Regions from separate parts of the Homo sapiens genome. Here region 2 is linked to region 1. The links come from fine-mapping of genetic effects on gene expression. Tissue or cell type: blood mononuclear cells. Region 1 holds a variant in brackets; the other region holds the start of a gene. All regions are shown on one strand. Distances are from middle to middle.

Region 1 (8,101 bases):
CCTTTATGTATTTTCTTAAAGCACGCCTTTAAATAAGCAAAAACTTTAAAAGGCAGGAAAGAGAATTCTTAGGCAAATTCAGAGAAATAAGTGCTAGTTAATACTAATCACCTCCTCCTCTGTCTCTCATCCTCCTTTCTCCCATCAAAGCAAAATATGGCCTCACCACCAGCCCCAAATCAGTGCTCAGACCCTCTCTGTGTCTGTGTGCCCTCCTGGGAGTCAGTCAGCGCTCAGGCCAGGACTGTGCAGGGCCAGCCAGCCCATGCGCTAGTCAGGAGCACAGGCAAGGGGTGCTTGTGGCAGTGGCCGGGCACCTGAGCCCCAGCTCGTTGTTAAACGTGCTGACGGCAAGGGGCAATGGAGTGAGTTTCCCAACTAAGAAACCACTATTATATATTTTTTCCCTTCAGTCACATAGACTTCAGACAACTCTCCTATTTTTTATGGATTTTTCAGCTCATTTCAGATGAAGGAACTAAGTCATTGTGAACTGTCTCTTGAGATCTAAAAACAAGATGACTTTTCCTGGCACATATTCCAAAGCAAAGACTTTGTTGCCTGCTGCTTATTGTCTAATTTACAGGGATATTTAATTTTGTCAGGTCTATGTATATTTATCCAGCTATACTTACTTGCACAGTGGATTGGAGAGAAAGGATTCTCCAGTGTGCACACTCATCGGTACTCTTTCTGCATTTCCCTCGTGCTGTGTCCCGCTCGGGTTCCAATGGACAGTATCAGGGCTTGTTTGACTTAGGTCTTTCAGTTTTCCTTTCGGTTCCCTTTTAAAAATGTGATTGTTAACCTGCCTCTTGAAAGATTCAACCGGGTGTGGTGGCTCACGCCTGTAATCCCAGCACATTGGGAGGCCAAGGCAGGTGGATCACCTGAGGTCAGAAGTTTGAGACCAGCCTGGCCAACATGGTGAAACCCCGTCTCTACTAAAAATACAAAAAGTAGCCAGGCGTGGTGGCGTGTGCCTGTAGTCCCAGCTACTTGGGAGGCTGAGGCAGGAGAATAGCTTGAACCTGGGAGGTGGAGGCTGCAGTGAGTTGAGACTGCACCATTGCACTCCAGCCTGGGTGACAAAGCAGGACTCCGTCTCAAAAAAAAAGAAAAGATTCATGATGCTGCTGCTCCCAGAAGGTTTGCTGGATGTGTTTACATAGGACTCTAACTTGTGTGCACTACAGTTGTTCACCAGGGCCAGTGATTCACCCCAGTGTGTGGCCAGACCATGACTGTGTAGCAGGAATGTTTTAATTTGTGCTTCCTTAGTAAATTGAAATATCAGCTGAGAGATTATTTGCTGCTGTTATTCAAAAGGCCATTTATGAAGTTAGTATTTGAGCCCCATAAGATCTTTAAAAAGCCTCCAATCATTTAAAGGAAGAAATCAGAGTTGCTATAAAATTCAGTAAAAAGCTCATAGCCAAACGGCTGTGCTCAGATGGAAAGTCTGAGCTGAGGTTGGTCTCTTGCCAAACCGTGGCTGTTGTGTGTTGTTCTTCATGTCTTCGAGTTCATTTTTTTTCATTCTGCCTATTCTGGCATCAGCTCACTTGAGGAGTCCCTCAGCCTTCTTGTATTTAAGGCATCGTCTTAGACTTTGTGGCTCTAAAGTACCTGTCTGTTGAGATTTCAAGTCTCTTGTCACCATCCTCACACATGACAACAAAACCCATAATGCATAAGTGGCCTTTTTGAACCAAGACTTTGCAAACTGATCTCTCCCCCGTGAAGGAGTTGAGCACATTAGCAACAATGTACATTAATTTTGGATTTTCATTTTCATGTTTTATTTTGTAAATATTATCTGATGTTTGGAGCTTGAGTATACAGACTGTAAATATAGTTCTTGTATTTGTACTAATTCTGATTCTTTTGCTGTATAGCCTTAGATGTGCAATGCAGACACTATCTAACTGTGTGTGGTAACCTTGCGTCACGGAGCTGTTAGTGAACGAGGTAAAAATAATAAAGGTACAGCCAGTGCATCAGAAGGTTCTCGATGTGCATTTATTCTTGCACCCCTTGAAAGGTAATTGCACAAAGATTTCTTTTCTTGATTTGCAAAGATAATACCTTTCTAAGACAGAAGTCACGATATCATCGCTTAAGTATTCCTTTCTGATATTCAAAATCGTGGTTTTTATATAACCAAGAAAGCTAATATGGTGCTGTTTCTTTGAAAGTACTTTTCTCCCAAAGATGTAAGTGGTTATTTTAGCTAGAAGATTTGTTGTTTTTCTCCTGAAGCCTCCTTGTATGCCTTCCAATAATTCTGTAGTGTTGTGTTGGCTTCTTTTTTTTTTTTTTTTTCTTTTTGAGACAGAGTCTTGCTCTGTCACCCATGCTGGAGTGCAGTGATGTGATCTCGGGTCACTGCAACCTCTGCCTCCTGGGTTCAAGCGATTCTCCTGCCTCAGACTCCTGAGTAGCTGGGATTACAGGCGTGCGCCACCATGCGTGGCTAATTTTTGTATTATTATTATTATTATTATTATTATTATTTTATTTATTTATTTATTTATTTTGAGATGGAGTCTCACTCTGTCGTCCAGGCTGGAGTACAGTGGCATGATCTCGGCTCACTGCAACTTTCCACCTCCCGGGTTCAAGCGATTCTCCCTGCCTCAGCCTCCCAAGTAGCTGGGATTACAGGCATCCATCACGCCTGGCTGATTTTATTTTTAGTAGAGAGGGGTTTCACTGTGTTGGCCAGGCTGGTCTCAAGCTCCTGACCTTGTGATCCACCCGCCTCAGCCTCCCAAAGTGCTAGGATTACAGGCTTGAGCCACCGTGCCCAACCTATAATTATTTTTTTGAGATGGAGTTTGACTCTTGTCACCCATGCTGGTGTGCAATGGCACCATCTCAGCTCACTGCAACCTCTGCCTCCCCAGTTCAAACAATTCTCTTTCCTCAGCCTCCCAGGTAGTTGCAATTACAGGTGCCCGCCACCACACCTGGCTAATTTTTAAAAATATTTTTAGTAGAGACGGGGTTTCAGCACATTGGCCAGACTGGTCTCAAACTCCTGACCTCAGGTGATCCGCCCACCTCGGCCTCCCAAAGTGCTGGGATTACAGGCGTGAGCCACCGTGCCTGGCCATGTTGGGTTTTTTTGGGTGGGGAAGGGTAAATGGGGATTTGAAAAGTTGAACATGTCAATTTAATTTAACAAGCCCTCATCA[C/T]GAGCAGAGCATGAGCAGGGGCCACTGTCCTGGGTGTTTGGGGAGAAACAGAAGAAGGGAGGGAGGAGCAGCCCTCAGGTTAAAAGCAATGATTTGTTCCAACCAATATTTGAGTACCCACCCTGTGCCTGGTGTGCTGCTGGGTGCAGTAATTCAGCAGCCAACAAAGCAAGCCCATGCACTTGTGCCCTCCCATTCCAGTGGGGAAGACAATGTTTAAACAAATTTACAACATCGGTCCTAAGTATTTTGGAGGAAAGCAGCTAAATAAAAGGATGAAAGAGGGATGGGAACGAGGGATGTTTAGATGGCATAGTCAGGGAAGGCCTCTCTTCGGAGATCACATTTGAGCAGACTCTAGAATGAAAGGATAGGGTAAGCCATGCAAACCCCTGGGCAAAGAGGTCTCCAAGTAGAGAAATGAAGCCCTTGAGGCAGCAGTGTCCTCAGTAGGTTCCAGAAATAGCAAGGTCGCTGGTACAGAGTCAGGGACTGGGAGCGCAATAGAAGACATCAGAAAGTAGCCAGGGACCAGGATATTTAGGGCTTAGGTGAGGACTTGGAATTTCATTAGAGTGAATGGGAAGCCATTGAAGGCTTTGGAGCAGAGGAGTCACAGGGGCTTATTTACATTTTTAAAAGACCATTCTGGAAAACAGTCTTTGTACTCAGGCAGGGACAAGTGGAAAAAAGGGGCAAAATAAGATTGTTACCCCAGTATTCCAGGGGAGGAGACGGTGGCTCAGACTAAGGTAGTAGAGTATAGGTGGGACGAAATGGGCAGATTCAAGGTACATTTTGAAGTTAGAACAGTTTTCTGAGAGACTTCATGCAGAGTTGTTGGAGAGAAAGGAGAAAAGTAACTAAAAGGGTAAGTGCCTGAGTAAAAGAACAGCATTGCAGTTTTCTAAGGTGAAGACAATTGGTAGAACAAAAGCTGAGAATGGTCATGCCTGTAATCCCAGCACTTTGGGAAGCCAAGGTGGGAGGATCACTGGAGCCCAAGACTTCGAGACCGACCAGCCTGGGCAATGTAGTGAGACCCCATCTCTACAAACAATTAAAAATTAGCTGGGCATGATGGTGCACGCCAGTAGTGCCAGATACCCAGGAGACTAAGGCAGAAGGATCGCTTGAGCCCAGGAGTTGGAAGCTGCAGTGAGCTGTGATCTTGCCACTGCACTCCAGCCTGGTCAACAGAGTTGAGACCCTGACTGTTAAGAAAATAGCACTTTGGGAGGCCGAGGCGGGCAGATCACCTGAGGTCAGGAGTTTGAGGCCAGCCTGGCCAACATGGTGAAACCCCGTCTCTACTAAAAATACAAAAATTAGCGGGGCGTGGTGGCAGGCGCCTGTAATCCCAGCTATTTGGGAGGCTGAGACAGGAGAACCGCTTGGACCCAGGAGGCAGAGGTTGCAGTGATCTGAGATCACGCCACTGCACTCCAGCCTGAGCAACAGAGAGCGAAACTGTCTCAAAATAATAATAATAATTTGATTTGAGTCATGTTCACTTTCAGATGCCAACACATGCACCTAAGTGTATAGTCAACAAAACAGTTGGCTGGACTAGCGGGATTCAAGGGGAGTGGTTGGAGCTGGAGACACACATTTGGGAGTTGGCGGCATGAAGATAGCAGATCGAGCCTCAGGCAGGGAAGGAGACCTGGAGCGTGTGTGTGGCTGACAGGAACCAAGGACTGATCTTGGAGCTTGGTGCGCTCCAACACATGGAGGTCAGGAAGAGAGAGGAGTCCAGCCAGGAGGACAAGCAGTGGCCGTGGAGGGAGAGTGTGGAAGACTGAGGAAGTGGTTGCTTTGTCCAGGGCAGCCAATAGGTTACAGGAAGGACTGAGCAGGGACCACAGGTTTTGTTAACTGAAAGGTGTAAGAAGTCCGAGGGAGCCAGGGGATACCCTAATTTTTCCCAATTTCAGAACCAATTAAGAAACAAAAAATAAGACGATGGGAGATGGGAGACCAAAATACCACCCTTATTACTGATAAAACTGCTGTTAGAAAATGTGGTTACATCTGGGAACACTGGATTTCTTTTCTTTTCTTTTTTTTTTGTGATGGCATCTCGCTCTGTCGCCCAGGCTGGAGTGCAGTGGTGTCATCTTGGCTCACTGCAAGCTCCGCCTCCCAGATTCACACCATTCTCCTGCCTCAGCCTCCCCAGTAGCTGGGACTACAGGCACCCGCCACCGCGCCCGGCTAATTTTTTTTTTTGTATTTTTAGTAGAGACGGGGCTTCACCATGTTAGCCAGGATGGTCTCGATCTCCTGACCTCATGGTCTGCCCGCCTCAGCCTCCCAAAGTGCTGGAATTACAGGCGTGAGCCACCGCGCCCGGCCTGGATTTATTTTGTAAGGCTGAACCTCAGAATGAGGCGGTTTAGAGCAGTGCTTCTTGAACTTTATTGTGCACCAGAATCCCCTGGGGATCGTACTAAAATGCAGGTTCTGATTGAGTAGGGCTTGGGTGGAGCCTGAGATTCTGCTTTTCTAATAAGCTTCCAAGTGATGTCAGTATTGCCATTGTGGGGATCACTCTTTGAGTAGCAGAAGTTAAGAGGAACGCAGCGCATATGTCCCCTGAAGGCAGCCGAGGTTCTGAGAGAGAGGGAGGAAGTGGCCAGGCAGTCTATGCCTAACCGCTCCTTCCAGACTCACAGGAACATTCTAGTAATGGGGCTCACTTCTCATGGAGGGAGGCATCAGGAGTGCTTCTACACTAGCAAGGTCATTGGTGAGGGGAGCATTTGTTTGAGTGGTGCCTAATTGGAGTAGGTTCTAGGGAAAGTGGGAGGAGAGGAGGGTGAAACAGTACAAACAATTCTTTCATAGATTTTTCTGTAAAAGGGAAAAGACAAATGGAGTAACTGGAAGGGGATATGGGGTAAAGGAGAGGCTTTTGTTTTAAAGAAGGGAAATAGCATAGCTTGTGCATGTACTAATTGGAAAAAATGAACTGGGAGGGAAAACCTGGCAGTGGGGAAGACAGTGAGGTGGAGAGAGTTGTGGAGTGGGCCTGAGGGACTGGGGGCCAGTGCACAGCAGAGAGGTAGGTCCTAGATCCAACTGAGCACCCTGGCTTATATCCACAGTGCTGCCGACAGCTCAGTGATAGGAACACTGCAAGTCTCTGGATTGCTAGGACTCTTCAGTCTTAAGTTAATGTCTGGCTGGGCGTGGTGGCTCATGCCTGTAATCCCAGCACTTTGGGAGGCTAAGGCGGGTGGATCACCTGAGCTCAGGAGTTCAAAACCAGCCTGGCCAACATGGTGAAACCCTGTCTCTACTAAAAATACAAAAATTAGCTGGGCATGGTGGTGGGTACCTGTAATCCCAGCTACTCGGGAGGCTGAGGCTGGAGAATCACTTGAACCCGGGAGGCAGAGGTTGCGGTGAGCCGGGATCACACCATTGCACTCCAGCCTGGGCTACAGAGCGAGATTTTTGTCTCAAAAAAAAAAAAAAAAAAAAAGTTAGTTAATGTCAGCTCTAGGGCTTATGTCAGGCCACGTCTTCCTGAAACTGGACTTGCAGTTTAAAATGGGAGATCATCCCCGAATCAGTGCATATTATGCTGGTTGTGCCCTCAACTAGACCTCACCCAGGAGCATGTAGGATTGAATCCTCACTAGGGTTGCACGCTTAGTAAATCCCCATGTCTCTTGCAAAGCTGATAGTTTGGGAAGTCAGGTGACCCATGGAAGCATGCATGAGTCTGGTGCGCTGCTTTTCTTTTGTTGTTGTTGTTTTGAGACGGAGTCTTGCTCCGTCGCCCAGGCTGGAGTGCAGTGGCACAATCTCGGCTCACTGCAAGCTCCGCCTCCTGGGTTCACGCCATTCTCCTGCCTCAGCTTCCTGAGTAGCTGGGACTACAGGCGCCCGCCACCACGCCTGGCTAATTTTTTGTATTTCTTAGTAGAGACAGGGTTTCACCGTGTTAGCCAGGATGGTCTTGATCTCCTGACCTTGTGATCTGCCCACCTCGGCCTCCCAAAGTGCTGGGATTACAGGTGTGGGCCACTGCGCCTGGCCCGGGCTCGTGCGCTGCTTTTCTATCTGGTTCTTCTTGTTATTCCACTTGCGGTTGGATGGGGAGATATTCCACTTTCCCTTAGGAACTCTTGTCCCTGCACAGACCATTTTAGCTATTCTGAGCACATCACAAGCATACTCCTCTGGGGTGAGAATATATAGCCTCTGGGCTTTTTCAGAATTGCTCCTTCTGCTACTCTGGAAGCTAACGTGGAATGATTGCTTGAGTCCAGCAGTTCAAGGCCAGCATGGGCAACAAAGCAAGAACCTGTTTCTTTAAAAAAAAAAAAAAAAAAAAAAAAAGGCGGGGGGAGCAGGCATGGTGGCTTACACCTGTAATCCCAGCACTTTGAGAGGCCGTGGCAGGAGGATCACTTGAAGCCAGAGCTCAAAACCAGCCTGGGCAACTTAGTGAGCCCCCATTTCTACAAAAAATAAAAACAATTAACTGGGCATGGTGGTACACACCTGTAGCCTCAGCTACTCAGGAAGCTGAGATGGGAGGATCCCTTGAGCCCAGGAGTTTGAGACTGCAGTGAGCTATGATGGTGCCACTGGCGCCTGGGTAACAAAGCAAGACCCTGTCTCAAAAAAAAAAAAAAAAAAAAAAAGGAGCTGGGCATAGTGGCATGTGCCTGTAAATGAAAGGCATCATTTCATGCAAGCTCCTCTGAGCCCAGGAGTTCCAGCCTAGCCCAGGCAACAGGGCAAGACCACGTCTCAAAAAAAAAAAAAGTACTCTTTCCACCTAAAATATATTCAGGTCATTTGAGTTCAGTTTGAGTTCAGCTACGAGAATTATTTAGTTGAGTGAGTGTCAGAGCTGGGATTTTCAAATCTGCCCTTACTGG
Region 2 (8,101 bases), 170 kb before region 1:
GTAATCCCAGATACTTGGGAGGCTGAGACAGGAGAATCGCTCCGCTTGAACCTGGGGGGCAGAGGTTGCAGTGAGCCGAGATCGAGTCACTGCACTCCAGCCTGGGTGAGAAGGGGAGACTCTGTCTCTAAATCAATTAATCGGTCAATCAATCAATCAATAATAGACATTTCCAGAGAAGAAAATGGAAGGCGGAAAATCATCAACGGCAGAAATAGCACCTCCGAACTCCAGCCTGGGCGACAGAACGAGACTCCATCTCAAAAAACAAACAAAAAATAATAATAACAATAAGGAGTTCAAGACAAATCAATAAATTCTCTGGTTTTTCCTCCCAACTCAACATTTCCATCTTCCTGTTATTTTGTTTTTCAAGAAATAAAATATTACACATAAAGTTGCAGATCCTCATGTCATCCTCCCTTTTTTTGTTTGTTTGTTTTGTTTTTCTCTCTTTCTTTCCTGGGTTAATCTCATCCTGAATTTGATGATTGTCATTGCCATCCATGTTTTCACACTTGACTATACATAAATTTAGTCCTAAACAGTATAGTGCTCATATTCATACTTCAGACTTTATGTATAAATGCCACTGTCCCGCACCTATTATCCTGCACCTTTTTTTTTTTTTTTTTGAGACAGAGTCTCGCTCTGTCACCCAGGCTGGACTGCAGTGGTGAGATCTCGGCTCACTGCAAGCTCCACCTCCTGGGTTCACGCCATTCTCCTGCCTCAGCCTCCCGAGTAGCTGGGATTACAGGCATGTACCACCACATCTGGCTAATTTTTTGTATTTTTAGTAGAGACTGTGTTTCACCATGTTGGCTAGGCTGGTCTCGAACTCCTTACCTCAAGTGATTCACCCACCTGGGCCTCCCAAAGTGCTGGGATTACAGGTGCATTTATTCTTAAATATTGAATAGCTTTTATTGCTTTTTTTCTTTCTTTCTTTTTTTTTTTGAGACAGGATCTCACTCTGTCATTGAGGCTCGAGTGCTGTGGTGCAATCATAGCTCACTGTAGCCTTGACCTTCCAGGCTCAATTGATCTTCCCACTCAGCCTCCCAAGCAGCTGGGACTACAGGTACATACCACCATGTCTGGCTACTTTTTTTTTTTTTTTTGTATTTTTTGTAGAGATAGGGTCTCGTTATGTTGCCTAGGCTTGTCTCAAACTCCTAGGCTCAAGCGATCAGCCTACTCTGCCTCCCAAAGTACTGGGATTACAGGCGTGGGCCACAGCACCTGGCCGGGAAGACTTGATTTTTTAAAAAGATCCCATTAAAAATAGCAATAAAGGCCAGGCTCAGTGGCTCACACCTGTAGTCCCAGCACTTTGGGAGGCTGAGGTTGATGGATCACTGGAGTCCAGGAGCTGGATACCAGCCGTCTCTACAAAAAATAGAAAAATTAGCTGGGCGTGGTGGTGTGTGCCTATAGTGCCACCTACTCAGGAGGCTGAGGTGGGAGGATGGATTAAACCAGGGGGCAAGGGTTGAGGCTGTAGTAAGCTGTGATCACACCACTGCACTCCAGCCTGGGTGACAGAGTGAGACCCTGTCTAAAATAATAGTAATAATAAAGTCTTCCTATCAAAAAGGAACACTTCGGATTTTTGTGTATTGATTTTGTATCCAGAAACCTGATTGTGATTGTGATTGTGATGGGAGAGTGGCAGTGCACCACGTGACTAGGACTTCTGATGTTCTCGTATCCTTGCATTCCAGAGACAGCCCTACCAGATCATGGCTACATTCAATTTTCTAGTAATTTATTTATCATTTTAAAGAGATGCTTTTATACAGAATTTGTAATCTGAGAAACTGGCTGGGCAGTGTGACTTCATCTGTCAGAGAGGCAAAAGGCTTATGCAGAGTGGGCTGTTTGGCCTTGGATCCTGGAGCAGCCTTCTTTGCCTTTATTGACCCTTCTGTGCCTTCTGTGTGCCCTTTGGCTAGCTTCTTCTCCTGCCAATCACAATCACACCCTCTTCACTACGTTTTTGTTTTAAATTTTATTTTATTTTTTGTTGAGACAGAGTCTCACTCTATCTCCCAGGCTGGAGTTCAGTGGTAGGATCTCAGCTCACTGCAACTGCCGCCTCGTCCACCTCCCGGGTTCAAGTGATTCTCCTGCCTCAGGTTCCCAAGTAGCTGGTATTACAGGCGTGCCCACCACGCCTGGCTAATTTTTGTATTTTTTAGTAGAGATGGGGTTTTGCCATGTTGGTCAGGCTGGTCTCGAACTCCTGACCTCAAGTGATCCACCCGCCTCAGCCTCCCAAAGTGTTGGGATTACTGTCGTGAGCCACCGCGCCTGGTTCTTCACTACGTTTTAGATTCTTTTTAGATTGTGCTCCATTGAGAGCTCAAGCAATACAGCCACCCAGGTTTTCGTAACTCTCCATGGCGCTCACCACAGTATTTACGCAAGGAGGTCCACGCTATGATGAAGTGGTGTCTACTGTTGAATTGATGAGTTCCTCTTTATTAACCTACTATAGTTTCATTTTACTCTTAGCCGTCAGGAAGCTAAGAGCTGAGTTCTGTGCTCAGTGGCAACATATTTCCTTGACTATGGATTTTTAAAATATTGTTTTTCTGGCCGGGCGCGGTGGCTCATTCCTGTAATCCCAGCACTTTGAGAGGCTGAGACAGGTGGATCACCTGAGGTCAGGAGTTCAAGACCAACCTGACCAACATAGTGAAACACCGTCTCTACTAAAAATACAAAAATTAGCCGGGCGTGGTGGCAGGCACCTGTAATCCCAGCTACTCGGGAGGCTGAGGCAGGAGAATCGCTTGAACCTGGGAGGCGGAGGTTGCAGAGATTTGACATCGTGCCACTGAGCTCAGCCTGGGCGAGAGTAAAACTCTGTCTCAAAACAAAACAAAAAAATTTTTCTTTCTAGGCATGCCTCTCATTCAAACAGCTTTTAAAAAGTCTCTTGCTTGTTTCATTATTATGAATTTTACGCCTATTTTAAAGCTATACGGTTTCACTGCTGTATGCTTTAGTGTAAGCTATGTCAAATCCTTTTGCAGGTAGGTGGAGCTTAAATTCTATAAAATGAGACGTGATCAATAAAAGCGGATGAAGAGTCTGAGGACTTGAGTGGTGGTGGAGATTTTCCAGAATTATTAGTGTAGAAAATTAATTTCGATGTTTTAGTGCATATGCTTGTACATAATACCTTTTACTCACAATAATACTGTATTTAATTCAGGGGAAGACATGTGATTTTACTTTCAATGTCTGCTAGTAAATAAAAATAATTCACAACCTTATAAAGTAATAGTGCTCGGCCTGGGCCTGATAATTGAATATATTATCACTGAAGATTATATTTTGTTAAGTACTGAATTGAACAGTTTCTGAACAGTGAGATTTTTCTTTCCAGCTGAATCTAAATCTGATTTTAAAGAAATCACTGCTCGTGCTTTTGTGTCCTCCGGGTTTCTAACTTCCACTCTCCCTCCTTCAAGGGCATCTCCCAGAAGGGGGCTGGGCTCGTTAACTCAGGGACGGTGCAAAGCGTTTGTTCCTCTCCTCACAGCCCTTCCGCGGTCTCCCAAGGAGACAAGTGGAATGCCCACCAAGTCATGCTTTTCCATTACTCATTCCGCCTTCTCTCCCGAGGTGGCGCGTGGGAGGTGTTTTGCTCGGGTTCTGTAAGAATAGGCCAGGCAGCTTCCCGCGGGATGCGCTCATCCCCTCTCGGGGTTCCGCTCCCACCGCGCCGCGTTCGGCCGGTTCCGCCTGCGAGATGTTTTCCGACGGACAATGATTCCACTCTCGGCGCCTCCCATGTTGATCCCAGCTCCTCTGCGGGCGTCAGGACCCCTGGGCCCCGCCCCGCTCCACTCAGTCAATCTTTTGTCCCCGTATAAGGCGGATTATCGGGGTGGCTGGGGGCGGCTGATTCCGACGAATGCCCTTGGGGGTCACCCGGGAGGGAACTCCGGGCTCCGGCTTTGGCCAGCCCGCACCCCTGGTTGAGCCGGCCCGAGGGCCACCAGGGGGCGCTCGATGTTCCTGCAGCCCCCCGCAGCAGCCCCACTCCCCGGCTCACCCTACGATTGGCTGGCCGCCCCGAGCTCTGTGCTGTGATTGGTCACAGCCCGTGTCCGTCGCGGGCGCCGGGGCGGATACGAGGTGACGCGCAGAGGCCCAGCTCGGGGCGGTGTCCCGCGCCGGCGACTGCGGGCGGAGTTTCGCGAGGGCCGAAGCGGGGCAGTGTGACGGCAGCGGTCCTGGGAGGCGCCCGCGCGCGTCGGAGCAGCTCCCCGTCCTCCGCAGCCGTCACCGCCGGCCGTCGCCGCGCCCTGGCCTCCCGCACTCGCGCACTCCTGTCCGCCGCCCACCGCCCACCTCCCACCTCGATGCGGTGCCGGGCTGCTGCGTGATGGGGCTGCGGAGCGGCGCCCTGCGGCTCGCGGCGGCCGCTGCTCGCGCTGAGGTGCGTCGGTGCCCGGCCCCCCGCGCCCCCGCGCGCCGCGGCTCCTGTTGACCCGGTCCGCCCGTCGGTCTGCAGCGCGGCTGAGGTAAGGCGGCGGGGCTGGCCGCGGTTGGCGCCGCGGTCGCGGGGTTGGGGAGGGGGCCGCTTCCGCGGGGAGGAGCGGCCGGGCCGGGGTCCGGGCGGGGTCTGAGGGGAGGTAGCGCGGGACGGGCGCCGGGTGCGGGAGCCTCGCCCTCGGGGGAGGGGACCCCTCCCTAGGCCAGCAGCGAGTCCCGGGCCGGCGTCCAGCGGTCGGCTGGGGCCCCCGCAGTGCCCTGCACCGGCCCTCCGTTTCCCCCGCGCTGCCAGGCCCCGGCTGTGCCCAGCGCTCTCCAGACCCGCCGCTGCCTGGCCGTTCCCTGGGCTCCGCGCACGTTGCAGCCCGGGGGGCGGCTGTGCTTCGTTTGAAGCCATCGTTTCTCATTTTCCCTCTCCCCTTTCCTCCTTTGTGGTGGGCATCGGGCTTCGGCTGGGAATGTGGTTATGCCCTTTGCCAGATGGCGATAGGAAAGGTCATCGCTTGGCGCTGGGGGAGCCGAGGGCTCGAGGCCTGGAAAGAGGGGTGCGATAGGAAGGGAGGGGGCTTGTTGGATGCTGGCCAGGTGTGAGGAAGGCTGGTGTGGTCTCGGCATTCAGCCGACTGGGATTACTCGGGCAGCCATATTGGGAGGATGATCTGACAAATCCTTTAGGAGCCAAGTCCAGTTGTTGGAAGGCACCGAGTGACAGCCCTGGCAGCTTTCAGGGTGACTGGCCAGACCAGAAGCCAAGTTGTGGGGGTTGGGAGGCTGCTTGAGCAAGCTAGTCATTGTTCATGCAACACAAAACATTCCCGCCCCTAACGCCAGAATGGAGCTTCCAGATCCCTTTTTTTTTTTTTCCTTGATTGCTAAATGAGCTTCCAAGGTAAACTGCCTTCAAGATTCCATTCTTGTTGGGGTGAAATTCCGTGTTTCTCTATTCATCTTCTGCGTCCAGTGCGGGGGCTGTGAAAGGCCTGCTGATGCTTTACATGTGCATAGGCCGATCTGAGAATTGCTAAGGCCACTGTATCAGTATGGAGGCCTCGAGTAGCCGTAGAGCATTGGATGGATAGATTTTCAGAGTCGCTCGACTTGCAGAGAAGAAGTAAACCAGAGTATTCTGATAGTGGGCGAGGCTAGTGGCGGCATTTCTGAGGACGCAGGCTGTCATCTTTGTGGAATCTCGAGGTAGCTGAAATTAGATTGTCAACAGATCCCTTGCTCATATCTCTTACTGCTCTGAGCAGCTGTTCTGCCACCATTGAACATTCCGCTTTGTGTCATGATGTGCCTGTCTGAGCCTGATGAAAGTGTGCTGATGAGATTTGAATAACTCTTAAGAGGTGATATCATGGTGGATATTTTATTTAAAGGCTGGCATTTTGTCTCCTTAGTTTAGTCATAACAAAATCTAGTTCTTGTGTTCCTCTAAGAAGTGAGGTGGTGCTTTCTGATTAAGTTGATATGGTTGCTGGATTATAGAGCAAGTGTTGTTAATGTATTGTTTGAAGGTGGAATATGAGAATTACACATAGGTTGGTATTGTAAAGCAGGTCTGGAGATGATCAATAACTGGGTTCAGCATGAGTCTGTAGATCTGTTCTTTTCTATATCCTAGATGTGGACAGGACCTGGAGAGATGGCATGCCTGCTTTCTTCTTTGTGGCCTTTGCTTTCATTCAAGTTCAATTTGTTCATAAATACATTCTCATAACTTCTCAGGTTGAACTATGTAAAAAATTTTGGGATGGGTGTGGTGGCTCATGCCTTGTAATCCCAACACTTTGGGAGGCTGAGACAGGAGGATCCCTTGAGCTCAGGAGTTCGAGACCACCCTGGGCAACAGAGTGGGACTCTGTCTCTACAAAAATAAATGAATAAATAAATACCTGGGCATGGTGGCTCATGCCTGTATTCCCAGCTATTTGGGAGACTGAGGTGGGAGGATTGCTTGAGGCTAGCCTGGGCAACAGCAAGACCCTGGCTAAAAAAAAAAATGTGTATATATATATGTGTGTGTGTGCATGCGTGTGTGTATATATATATATATATATATATATATATATATATATATATACACACACACATTTAAAAAATTTGGATAGCTTTTGCTAAGCAAGGTCTTAACACTATTTTTTTGTTATTTTTGTCATCAAGCTTTAGTTTTAAAACTTGTTGAATCAAATGTAACTTCAACAGAAACTAGTGTTTTTTGCATTACACTAGTATGAGAGAAATACAGAATGTCTGTTTTGAAATTCCATGCCCTAAGTTAGAAGTATTTCTAAGTTTTTAATTTTTAGAGTTACTTTATTAGTATAAAGATCTGAATATTTTTGATTAAAAATAATTTCAGCATTTGGTAAAATCAGACCTGATTGTGAATCTGATACAGAGGCTAGGTTTTATGAGTATGTGTAGCTCTGCTCTGATGAGTGTTTTTCCAAAATTTATCCAATTAAGTATAGCTTTTAAGGCTTAGAACAGACTGTTTTTCCTTTTCAAGACCAGATATGAATGCACTTTTCCTTTTTTCTCTCTTTCTTCTTTCCCATTTTGATTTCGTGCAGGGAATAAGTGTCCAAGAAAGTCTGCCAACGGAGTCTTTCTTAAGGCCAAAGCTTTTTAGCCCATTTTCTCACTGTGGTCTTGTCCTGGGTACAAAGTAAAGGACAATGGGCCCCCTGCCTTCCTGTTTGTAATCCCCTTCCCAGGCTGCTAATCATAGTAGATCTTTTCCAGGAGGAAGCATATCCTTTTGGTCTTGTAAACTAACATGATATAATTTCATAATGCTCTGAAGTTATTTTATGTCTATTTCATGTATTTCTCTTTGAAAGATGGCCTCGTTTGAACAGGTACTGGTGAATATCTGGATTCTGTGAAACAGTGTGAATAAATATGCATACTTCTTGAACTTTTTTTGTGCAGCTTGTCAGGATAGAAGAGAAATTAAACAGATGTGACTGTGGTAGGAAAAACCTGCAAAAGGTGCCTTGGGCCGGATGCAGTGGCTCACATCTGTAATCCCAGTGCTTTGGGAGGCTGAGGCGGGAGGATTGCTTCACATCAAGAGTTTGAGACAAGCTTGGACAACATAGCAGGACCCCCATCTCTACCAAAAAAAAAAAAATCTGGATGTGGGTGGTGTGTGTTTGTAGTCCTAGTGCTTCGGAGGCTGAGTGGGGAGGATGGCTTGAGTTTGAGATTACAGTGAGCTAAGACAGCGCCATTGCACTCCACTCTGGGCTCAGACTTTGCCTGCTAAAAATAAAAAGATGCCTTGGACTTCTCAGAGTTGAACTGTTTGGTTAACGGGCCACTGATTCATTGATGCTCTTTTACTATAGGCATTACCCATTAACTGAGGGTGCATGTAGAGATTTAGTTCTTTACCTTCCAGGAACTCACACTTTACCACTTCTTTCTTTCTTTCTTTCTTTTTTTTTTTTAAGACAGAGTCTCGCCCTGTCACCCAGGCTGGAGTGCATTGGTGTGATCTCAGCTCACTGCAACCTCCGCCTCCCGGGTTCAAATGATTCTCCTGCCTCAGCCTCCCAAGTAGCTGGGATTACAGGCA

Evidence for each region. PIP is the estimated chance that this variant, and not a neighbour inherited with it, causes the effect.
Region 2: KIF1B starts here. The variant in region 1 is fine-mapped to the expression of KIF1B in blood mononuclear cells (TOPMed, PIP above 0.99). The same link has a PIP of 0.9 or more in T cells.

Annotation. Positions count from the first base shown.
Region 1 is chr1:10,379,598-10,387,698 of GRCh38, forward strand. KIF1B (kinesin family member 1B) reads left to right here. Exons shown (of 49, transcript NM_001365951.3): 49 at 1-2,006. Among named protein-coding and RNA genes, the nearest start is that of PGD, 15 kb to the right of the region's middle. The variant C/T (reference allele first, on the strand shown) is at 3,201.
Region 2 is chr1:10,206,335-10,214,435 of GRCh38, forward strand. KIF1B (kinesin family member 1B) reads left to right here and starts at 4,236. Exons shown (of 49, transcript NM_001365951.3): 1 at 4,236-4,544. RefSeq lists silencers at 3,457-3,751, 3,838-3,917, 3,948-4,467 and an enhancer at 5,369-6,024.